3 linked regions of the Homo sapiens genome follow. The protein of the gene in region 1 purifies or fractionates together with the protein of each later gene. This does not show direct contact. Each region holds a gene or a part of one and is shown in the gene's direction. Other genes may lie near its edges. The genes, in order: PPP1R2, ISOC1 and SULT1C3.

Evidence for each region.
Region 2: the proteins of PPP1R2 (region 1) and ISOC1 fractionate together in Homo sapiens (co-fractionation; one large-scale study listed by BioGRID). This does not show direct contact.
Region 3: the proteins of PPP1R2 (region 1) and SULT1C3 fractionate together in Homo sapiens (co-fractionation; one large-scale study listed by BioGRID). This does not show direct contact.

The regions. Positions count from the first base shown.
Region 1 is NC_000003.12:195,522,806-195,526,463, reverse strand, and holds part of PPP1R2 (protein phosphatase inhibitor 2), read left to right. Parts: intron 1-1,567; coding exon 1,568-1,645; intron 1,646-2,677; coding exon 2,678-2,772; coding exon of another isoform or gene 2,773-2,775; intron 2,776-3,658. UniProt on the Homo sapiens protein: Inhibitor of protein-phosphatase 1.
Region 2 is NC_000005.10:129,111,641-129,114,578, forward strand, and holds the end of ISOC1 (isochorismatase domain-containing protein 1), read left to right. Parts: intron 1-1,214; coding exon 1,215-1,361; 3' UTR 1,362-2,388; downstream 2,389-2,938.
Region 3 is NC_000002.12:108,242,924-108,246,581, forward strand, and holds part of SULT1C3 (sulfotransferase 1C3), read left to right. Parts: intron 1-3,658.

The DNA.
Region 1 (3,658 bases):
CAGTTCACTGCTCAGTTTTATCATTTCTTTCCATGACTTTCTTTTTTCTTTTTGAGAGTTTCATTTGGCCAGCCATGGTAGCTCATCCTTGTAATCCCAGCACTTTAGGAGGCTGAGGTGGGAGGATTGCTTGAGCTCAGGAATTGGAGATGAGCCTGGGCAACATAGAGAGACCCCGTCTCTACAAAAAATAAAAAGAATTAAGCCAGGAATGGTAGCACATGCCTGTAGTCCCAGCTACACAAGAGGCTTAGGTGGGAGTATCACTTGAGCCCGGGAAATTGAGGCTGTAGTGAGCCGTGATGGTGCCACTGTACTCCTGGGTGACAGAATGAGACCCTGTCTCAAAAAAAAAAAAAATTTTATTTAAGTGAAGATGCTTTTTATAGAAACATCATGTCTTATTATCTAAGAATCTCACAGTTAGTATACAAGAAGTTATTGCTTCTGTATACATGTACATATATAAACATAATTCAGTAAATTTTACAACTAGAATTTTCTATAGAACGATTCTATAAATTAACAAAATGTTTATTTTACCTTACTTTGCTTGATTAAACTCAATAACATAGATCAATTTCAACTTCCCTTAGAAAAAAGAACGTCATCTAAACTATAGACTTACTTGTCACCTTAATTAACCAGGAAATGTATAAACTGGCAGTATTTTATAAATAGCTGAGTTCTGCTTTATATACTTTGCAGTGGCTTAAGAATTAAGGTTGCCCATTTTTGCATTGAAGTGGGGAGCAAATTTTTCATTAGAGGGTAGAGTGAGAAAGCTAAATCACTTGTAAACTTCCGAAATTAGATCTTTGGGATCGAATTTTGTTACTTTACTCAGTCTTGTGTCTGCGTAGATCTTTTGTCTCTATCTTAAGATTGATGTAGAAATACATGTTCTAAAACCAGACAGTGATTTACTTTGCATTACTTGTTCCTTCCCACTGGATGGAATAATTGGAACTTTGTAGTATTTTTTTTTCCAGATCATTTACGTTTTCAGTACAGTTATTCCTCATTATCCATGGAGGTTTCAGGACCTCCCTCAGATACCGAAATCCTCAGACACTCAAGTCTCTGATATAAAATGGCATTGTAGATGTATATAATTATGCACATCCTCCTGTATGTGTTAAATCATCTCTGTGTTAGTTATATTACCTAATAAAATGTAAATACTGTGCAAATAGTTGTTACACACTGTATCATTTAGGGAATAATGATAAGAAAAAAGTCTACATGTTTAGTACAGAGGAAATTTTACTTTTCTCTGGCTATTTTCAATCCACGGTTGAATTCATGGATGTGGATCCTGTGGATATGGCAGGCAGACTGTATTTATGTGTTTTTTTTAATCATTTGGAGTCTTTTCTTGATTGGGTGCTGTACTTTTAAGTATTTGTATTGAATAGGAACTATATAAAGTTAAACCTCAAAGATATCAACAGAGCTATAAATATATTGATATGTTAAGTAGGTTGATGGAATTGTTTTTCTCCCTTGTTTTTGTGGCTGAAAATGTATGTTTCAGGTATTAATTACAATGTGCTTGTCATACTAGTATGATGGGGGATGATGAAGATGCCTGTAGTGACACCGAGGCCACTGAAGCCATGGCGCCAGACATCTTAGCCAGGAAGTAAGTACTAATGACCGGAGCACATTTTCACTTAGGCTGTTTATAATCGTGCAGAGTTGAAAGCAGCCTGCGTGGCTGTCCCTGTATGAGCGGGAAGAAAAGGCTGTTGATCAACATGTTTTATGCCGACTTTTTTTTCCTTTTTTCCCCCTTTTTTCACCTTCTGAGTCACCAACTTTTATAGTCTTGTCTCTTGATTAAAATCAAGGTATGTAGGTGGCAGGAAGACCAGCGTACCTGCACTTGGGATACTGAAATGTGTCACTTCCCTGTGGGGGGTTTTATTTGTTTTCTGAGACAGAGTCTCGCTCTGTCATTCAGGGTGGAGTGCAGTGGTGTGATCTCAACTCACTGCAACCTCCACCTCCCAAGTTCAAGCAATTCTCGTGCCTCAGCCTCCCCAGTAGTAGCTGGGATTACAGGCCCATGCCACCAAGCCTGGCTAATTTTTGTATTTTTAGTAGAGACAGTGTTTTGCCATATTGGCCAGGCTGGTCTCGAACTCTTGACCTCAAGAGATCCGCTGGTTTCAGCCTCCTAAAGTTCTGGGATTACAGGGGTGAACCACCGCGCCTGGCCCCTGCTTCCTGTTTTTAAAGGTAGCAGTGAGAAAGGCAAAAATAAGTTAATTCATAAAAGCACTCTTCCTTTGCTACTTACTGATTTCTAGCACCCATTCCACTGTTCTTGTCTATGCCCATTTCTACTCTTTTTATTCTTTTTTTTTTTTTGAGACAGGGCCTTGTTCTATCACTCAGGCTGGAGTGCAGAGGCGCAATCAAAGCTCATTGCAACCTCAAACTCCTGGGTTTAACTAGTGCTCCCACCTCGGCCTTCCAAATAGCTAGGACCACAGGCGTGTACCACCATGCCCGGCACGTTTCTGCTCTCTTGCCTTTTATTTTCCTCATCAGGTTATAGCTAGCACATTAATGATCTTCAGATGTTTTTGTAAGAATCAACAGTTGAATAAGGCGCTTAAATAATATCAAAACATCACTGTTAATTTCTTTGTACATGATTGTTGCATAGATTAGCTGCAGCTGAAGGCTTGGAGCCAAAGTATCGGATTCAGGAACAAGAAAGCAGTGGAGAGGAGGATAGTGACCTCTCACCTGAAGAACGAGGTAGTTTATTTCCTTTACTGCTTTCATCATGGTGCTAGTAATTTTTGCTAAGATAAATCCATTATTTGGAAGATGAGCAAATGGTTTTCATTTTGGGGACACACAGGGGAGGAGAATGAAAGCAACATCTTTATAATTCAGATACTACTTGTGTGTTTTGTTGTGTAATAGTTTTTTACCCCTGATTTCAAGAATATGGGGAAGTATTACCATCTTTAAAGTAATTATAAGTATTATTTTCTTTGTACTTTTTAGTGCAGAGTAGATACTCAGTAAATACTTTTTAAATTAATGCATTTCAAGTCATTGAGCGTTTGGACGGTCTTAAAGTGGGTAGCTGAAAGAGCTAATTTCCCAGTTGCTTATGCTTTTTGTGTTGTTGGACAGTGATGCAACTTAACAAATGAACCAAGATGATCAGATGCAGAGTGAAGGTCTTTATTAGGTCCCATCAATCAAAAGGAGCAGTAGTGTCACAGGAAGGGAGATGGAGACAGCCCTCCCCTTCACAGGGATGGAAGAGGGTCTCGTAGGCCATTCAGCACATACACATTTAAGGCATTGCTGCCTGCTCGTGCTTTCTGTTTCCACAAGTAAAAGTGGTTACCCGTGGAGGCTGGGAGAAAAGGAGTATGTCTTATCTTGTTGCATTTTATACTTTTTGATTCATGTGAATATATAATCTTCTCAGGAGTTAAAAAATTGTGTATAGTTTATTTGCAACTATTTTTAAAGGAAAATCCAAGCTTGTGGGTAGAGGGGAAAGATATAAGAAAAGCACATACTCACAAAAAAGAGGAAGAAGGAAAATATGGTAGAAACCTACTTGAAGTGTTGTGGCGTAGGGACTACCTCCTGTACCGTGAAGAAGCTGAGAAACTTTAGA
Region 2 (2,938 bases), on another chromosome or scaffold:
CTGATAACACATAAATCCAGAGAATGAATCTGTGCTATAGAATTCTTCTATTTTCCTCCTTTCCTCTCTCTACCCTTTACCCCCGACTTTCTGTTCTTTGCTCTCTTCCTTCCCTTCTTTCCCCTTTGCCTTCTCCTTTCTGTCTCTCTTTTCCTCCTTGAGCTTTCTGTCCTTAGTATTATGATTCCACTGGGGCAGTTTGGCAAGGATATTCTTTGACCTGTCAGTGAAACTTTACACAACCTTGAATTTTACACTCTTGTTTAGTGGTATTAAAATGTTCATGATGGCAGCAGTAGTGGTGGTTCTCTTATCATCCAGGGAGTCTCCTGACACAGAGAGAGCTCTTTTAGCACCAGTCATTTCTAGACAAGGGAACTGTTAATTATAGGAAGGACTCATATGCTATAGGTCAGATGTTTGGGTGCAGTAAAAAGAAATTAAGAACCATCATTTTAATTCTTATAGTAGTTTTAATCCAATTAAACAATTTATATGAAATTTGATAGTAAATTACTAATGTAATGTTCTAGCAGCTACAATTATATCTGTAGTACAGCTAATGGAGCTTTAAAATATTACGCTCCCCTCGATTTTTAAAACATGAAGAGCTACAAAATGCCAGGGGTGCCAGGCATAAGTATTAATATGCATCACGATCTCATGTATTATCAGTTAAACTACAGAGGGGGAAAAGTGGACAGAGGCACCTTTTAAAAAATCTCAGTAGTAGAAATAGAAATAAAAGTTTAATAAATTTAGAAGTCACAAGCAGCCCTCATTTGAGTCAATGAATGAGTAAGACATGAAGCACAAACCTGCCAGGAGTGTTCAGGAAATAGCAGCAACTAAATGTCCAGATGTTCAGTGATGGGCACGTAGTAACAACCATTCCTTTTCTCTCTCTCATCTCATGTTTTACAGTCATTTGCCTTGATGACTTTCCTGTTCTGGGCACATATATGTCATAACTTTGGCTACCTGTTCCCTTTTACTCGTTCTACTCCATTTTACTAATATTAAGAATAATCATATTGACTTTGTGGTATGCCTGGTCTTGAAATCCATCCCCATCACTGAACTTGATGGTATGGCTGGGAACCACGGTTTCAGTAGAGGACACTAATTATTGCATCCCAGCATAGTGTTACTCTTCTGAAATAGTGTTCATTCTCATGCTTATTTCTTGATTTGCCTTTATCTTTTTGTTCAAGCGTCTCGCTCGAACCGGGATCATAGTGACCACGAGTGAGGCTGTTCTGCTTCAGCTGGTAGCTGATAAGGACCATCCAAAATTCAAGGAAATTCAGAATCTAATTAAGGCGAGTGCTCCAGAGTCGGGTCTGCTTTCCAAAGTATAGGACATTTGAAGAACTGGTATGCTACTCACTGGTGAAGGACAGTCAGGTGAAGGACTGTAAGCCCACACAAGCTCTTCTTATCTCTACTAGAATTAAAATGTTAAGTCAAAAACGGCTCCTTTTTTGCGCCTCCTAGTGAAACTTAACCAGCTAGACCATTTGAGTACCAGCATTTAGTTACAAACGTCAAAGGCTTCCGGTGCTGCTTACCTTCCTTTTTTGTTAATGTGCTTTTATTTATTAAAAAAAATTACAATGAAGATGCCTGTTTTGTCTCTACTGTGTACTCTGATCGTATCTTTCCAAAGTGCAGACTCTTGTGAAGTTTTCTTAAATTGTTCACTTTAAAGAAAATGACGTACCAACAATGATTTGGCTTTTATATTACTGTAAGATGTTATAATGTTAATGTGGATGTAGTGCTTTTACTTTACAGATTGATTGGAATAAGATTATTGCATATGAATTTACCCACAGGACTCTGAATCATGTTACCCACTCCCCTCACAATGTTGTCCACTTAGTGAGTTGCATTGATCTATCCGTACCAAATGATGTTGAATAATTACATATCTTTCTTGACTATACTGATTTCTTATTTTGGTCACTATTACTAAATCTCTGTTAATATTCTCTCTTTTAACTGAAAAGGGATGGGATAGAAGGGTTTGCAATGCCATATTATTGGTGGAGGGCTGTTTTAACATCTTTGAAGTATGGCTTGCTGAATATCTTTACCAACATCTTGAATATATATTCTAGTGTCCACAAGATTTAGCAAAAAGATAAAGCTTGGGTGGAATATCATTTTAAAATGTTCATGTTCTGTTCTATATTTTCTTCACCTACTCTCCAAATATTGTAATGCAAAAAGTCTCAGTAATGATTTGGTAGTATTAATTTTGTGGTCATTGTTTCTCTTCGATAAATTTATTTTCATTAAATACTTGTTAGAGGGTTTTGAAATGTTTTTCAAATATGTGAAATGTGAAACTGCTGTCTTTTATATTAAAGTAATTAAAGAAAATGTATTGTGATTGAAATTATTTTGTCCTCCACAAGATGGCTCTATGAGTATTCTTCCAGGGATTCTAATATTTATTTAAGGTAATAAAATCTTGACATTTATAATCTTTCAACTCATGGGAGTTTTCAAAGAAGGAAAATCCTTTGTACGTAGGGGCAGATGGATTTTACTAAAGGGTGAAAGGCCTTCTTCATTAAGAGCAGATTTTTTTTATTTTTCCTATTGGCAGTGGTAACAAATAGCAACCTGGTGTGTTTAAATACTTTTTTCCAACCATTTGTGTGTCAAAAAAGAAGAATCAAAGATTTCTGCACCTTTAAAAAGTTTTTATTAAATTTAACCTAGTGCTTCTCAAACTTTAATATGAATGCAAATTATTTGAGGATCTTGTTAAAATGCTGATGCTGACTCAGTAGGTCTGTTGTGCAGCCTGAGGTGACATTTTGCATTTCCAAGGTGACATTTCGCATTTCCAAAAATTGGGCATTTTCCACCAGTGCTGTTCAGAAAGGACCATATTTGAAATAGCGAGAATTTAACTCCAGACAAC
Region 3 (3,658 bases), on another chromosome or scaffold:
ACTTTTAAATATACCTATAACTTGAATATCCATTTTTAATTAAGCTGAGCACTCTTTAAGAAAATCCTTTTAAATCCCTTTTTACTCGACTTTAGCCATGCCAAGCAGTTAAGATTTTTGACTTTTCAATTTTACAAAAAGTAACCTTACAGGTGAAACCAATGAGCCTTAATTAGGTTATGATTTAACCGTGAGTGTGCAAGGCATTTTCAAAGGAGGGTAAGCAGCTTTTGAAACTATCATTGCAAAATTGTAACTGAGACAGTGAAAGACATCTGACCCAAACAGCTCCATTTTGTTTCCAGCGCCCGAGCTGTCCTTGCCCATCCCTGGGGACAGGCTTCACCAACTTTGGGAGGAACCTGGTTTACAGTTTATACTTTAAAACAAAGATGGTAACAGCTCCTTCTTAAGATATGTTTCCAGGGCCGGGCGCGGTGGCTCACACCTGTAATCCCAGCACTTTAGGAGGCCGAGGCAGGTGGATCACGAGGTCAGGAGATCGAGACCACCCTGGCTAACACGGTGAAACCCTGTCTCTACTAAAAATACAAAAAATTAGCCGGGAGTGGTGGTGGGTGCCTGTAGTCCCAGCTACTTGGGAGGCTGAGGCAGGAGAACAGCGTGAACCTGGGAGGTGGAGCTTGCAGTGAGCTGAGATTGAGCCACTGCACTCCAGGCTGGGTGACAGAGCAAGACTCTATCTCAAAAAAAAAAAAAAAGATATACTTCCCTCTTGCCTGGGAACAAGACCAAAAAACTAGCCAGAAGTCTTGAAACCATCCCTTAGGAGTCATGCAGCAAGAGACTATGAGATTTTGACCCTCCCTAAACTGCTTTCAAGATCAGTGCTTAAGATATTTTGTAAACTCTACCCTTGATGAATCAGCTAGCACCACCCGATTGACAAACTGGCTTATATGATTTTTTGGCCCTTACTCAGGAACTGACTTAGCACAAGAAGACAGCCACCATTGTAAAAAGGCTGAGAGTAAAGTATATTATTGCCATGTAGTTACAGGTCATGTATCCAGACATGAAACAAGATGGAGGCCTGTGGCCAAGTTTGTTACTATTATGTTGGGCTGGCTTGAACCGCAGACTTGTGGGGTCCTGGGCCTGCATCCTAACCTAAGGTATCTTTTCTTTGACAGAACCATACAGAAAGACATGCAAAGCACACCAAATTGTCTACAGCTTAAGATCAACAAAAATCCTTTTTCATTAATTATAAATTCACAGAGAATATAAACAATGATCCTTATTATCCCCTTTACTGGCTCACACAGGGAGAGAGAAGCCAAAAGCCCAACTGGTAAGAAATTTTTACCCTTTTGCCAGCATATCACACTTCTGGGTTCCCTTCCCCCTAGCTCAACTCTAAGCCAAGCATTTTTAAGTTTGGAAAATTAACTTTTCCCAGGTTAAGGGGACATTATAAAAGAGATAGAACCATTATAAACCATAAAAGAAGAAAAAATACTACAGAAAGGAGTTCCAATTACAGTTGTTATGAGGTATCGCCTCTCTTCCTATTGGGAATGGTGTTTTGCCTATATTTTTGCCTTCCCTATTTTTTTCTTTTCCATTTTGGCACACTATAGGAGACATATTACTTATTTCCAAAATTCTCATCTGCTTGCAGAGCTGCCTATTTTAGCTACAGTTAGGGTTTGGCTTAGGAGCAGCATAACTTTCCTCCATGAGAGGGCAAATAACTGAGTTAAATTTTGGAAAGCTTCTATATAGCTATCAGGGTGGTCAGAAAATCAGCCTAAGTCTGCCTTTACTTGTCTAAAGTCCTGCAATGAGAAGGGAACTTGAAGGCACCCCCAAATAAGGGAATCCTCAGGTGGTTTCCCAGGACCTTGCTTTTCTAATTTTGGGGAATTATTCTCTTTGGGCCTGCCTGATATGATTGCTAAAAGAGCTGGGTTGATTTTGCAACACTTGCAAAGGTCTAGTACAAAGGCCACACTCTTGTGCAAAAGAAAATAAGCCACTTTTTCTTCAAAGTTTCAAGGATGAAGGAGTCCCAGTGCTTCAAAATACACTCCAGGGGAGTGCATGTTGAAGATGATCTGTTACCCATCTAAAAACAGAAGTGAGAATAAAAGTGTCCTTTTAGTCTCCTTCCTTTCGGTATTGTGATCAAGGATGGAGAAGAAAACAGTAGAGGGCATTCCTCAACTATTTTCTGTCTTTGGCTCCTGAATCCTGGCACCCATTTAAATGTGCCACCCATGACTGCAGACATGACCCTATAAGTCATGGCCCCAGAGGAACTAAACTTTTGGGCCTTAGTCATACTGTCCACAGGCAGTCTTAGTCTTCTGCCTTTTATTTCCCTTTGACCTCCTAGACTTGTGTGGCCTGCGTGCCTTCCAAAAAAAAAATGAATTTCAAGAAAAATCACATAATTGGGCAAGGCCCCTTTAAGGGAGGGAGCATGCTAGATTGAACTCTATATCCTGCTATGATGGCCTATGCTAAAGCATTTACCCATAGAAAAAGGGTTCTGGTTAACTTCCAGACTTAGAATCCCTTTACTAATTAAGCACTGTCTGAATAGGAGACAGAATAGGTGCCTTAAAGGAACACGGGAATTGAATGGCCATTTTCTGGCCAATGGGACAATCAAGGAGTAGCTAGGAAGCAGGGTAACACGGTTGTAGTAGCTAGGAAGCAGGGTAACAAGACCCTAGGCTGCACACAACGCGGGGACCCTGGGCCTAGTCCACAAAACCATTTTTTCCTCCCAGGCTTCCGGGCCTGTGATAGGAGAGGCTGCCATGAAGACTCCTGACAAGCCCTGGAGACATTTTTCTCATTGTCTTGGAGATTAACAATCAGCTCCTCATTACTTATGCAAATTTCTGCAGCTGGCTTGAATTTCTTCCCCAAAAATGAGATTTTCTTTTCTATTGCATTGTCAGGCTGCAAATTTTCCAAACTTTTATGCTCTGCTTCTCTTATAAAACTGAATGCCTTTAACAGCACCCAAGTCACCTCTGGAATTATTTGATGCTCAGAAATTTATTCCACCAGATACAATAAATCATCTCTCTCAAGTTCAAAGTTCCATAGATTTTTAGGGCAGGGGCAAAAATGTCACCATTCTCTTTGCTAAAACATAGCAAGAGTGACCTTTACTTCAGTTCCCAACAAGATTCTCATCTCCATCTGAGACCACAGTAGCCTGGATTTCATTGTCCATATCATTATTGGCATTTTTGTCAAGGCCATTCAACAAGTCTCTAGAAAGTTCCAAACTTTCCCACATTTTCCTGTCTTCTTCTGTTCCAATCTCTGCCTGTTACCCAGTTCCAAAGTCAATTTTACATTTTCAGGTATCTGCAGTAGCACCCCACTCTGCTAGTACAAATTTATTGTATTAGTCCCTTTTCATGCTGTTAATAAAGACATACCTGAGACTGGGCAATTTAAAAAATAACGAGGTTTAACAGACTTAAAGTTCCACGTATCTGGGGAAGCCTCACAGTCATGGTGGAAGGCAATGAATGGCAGCAGGCAAAGGAAAAGAGAGCTTGTGCAGGGGAACTCCCCCTTATAATGGGTGGGGACACAGGCGAACCATATCAGACCCCAACTAAATTCCAAGTTTCCAGAGTTAGTAGACATGAGAGTTTTCAGGTAC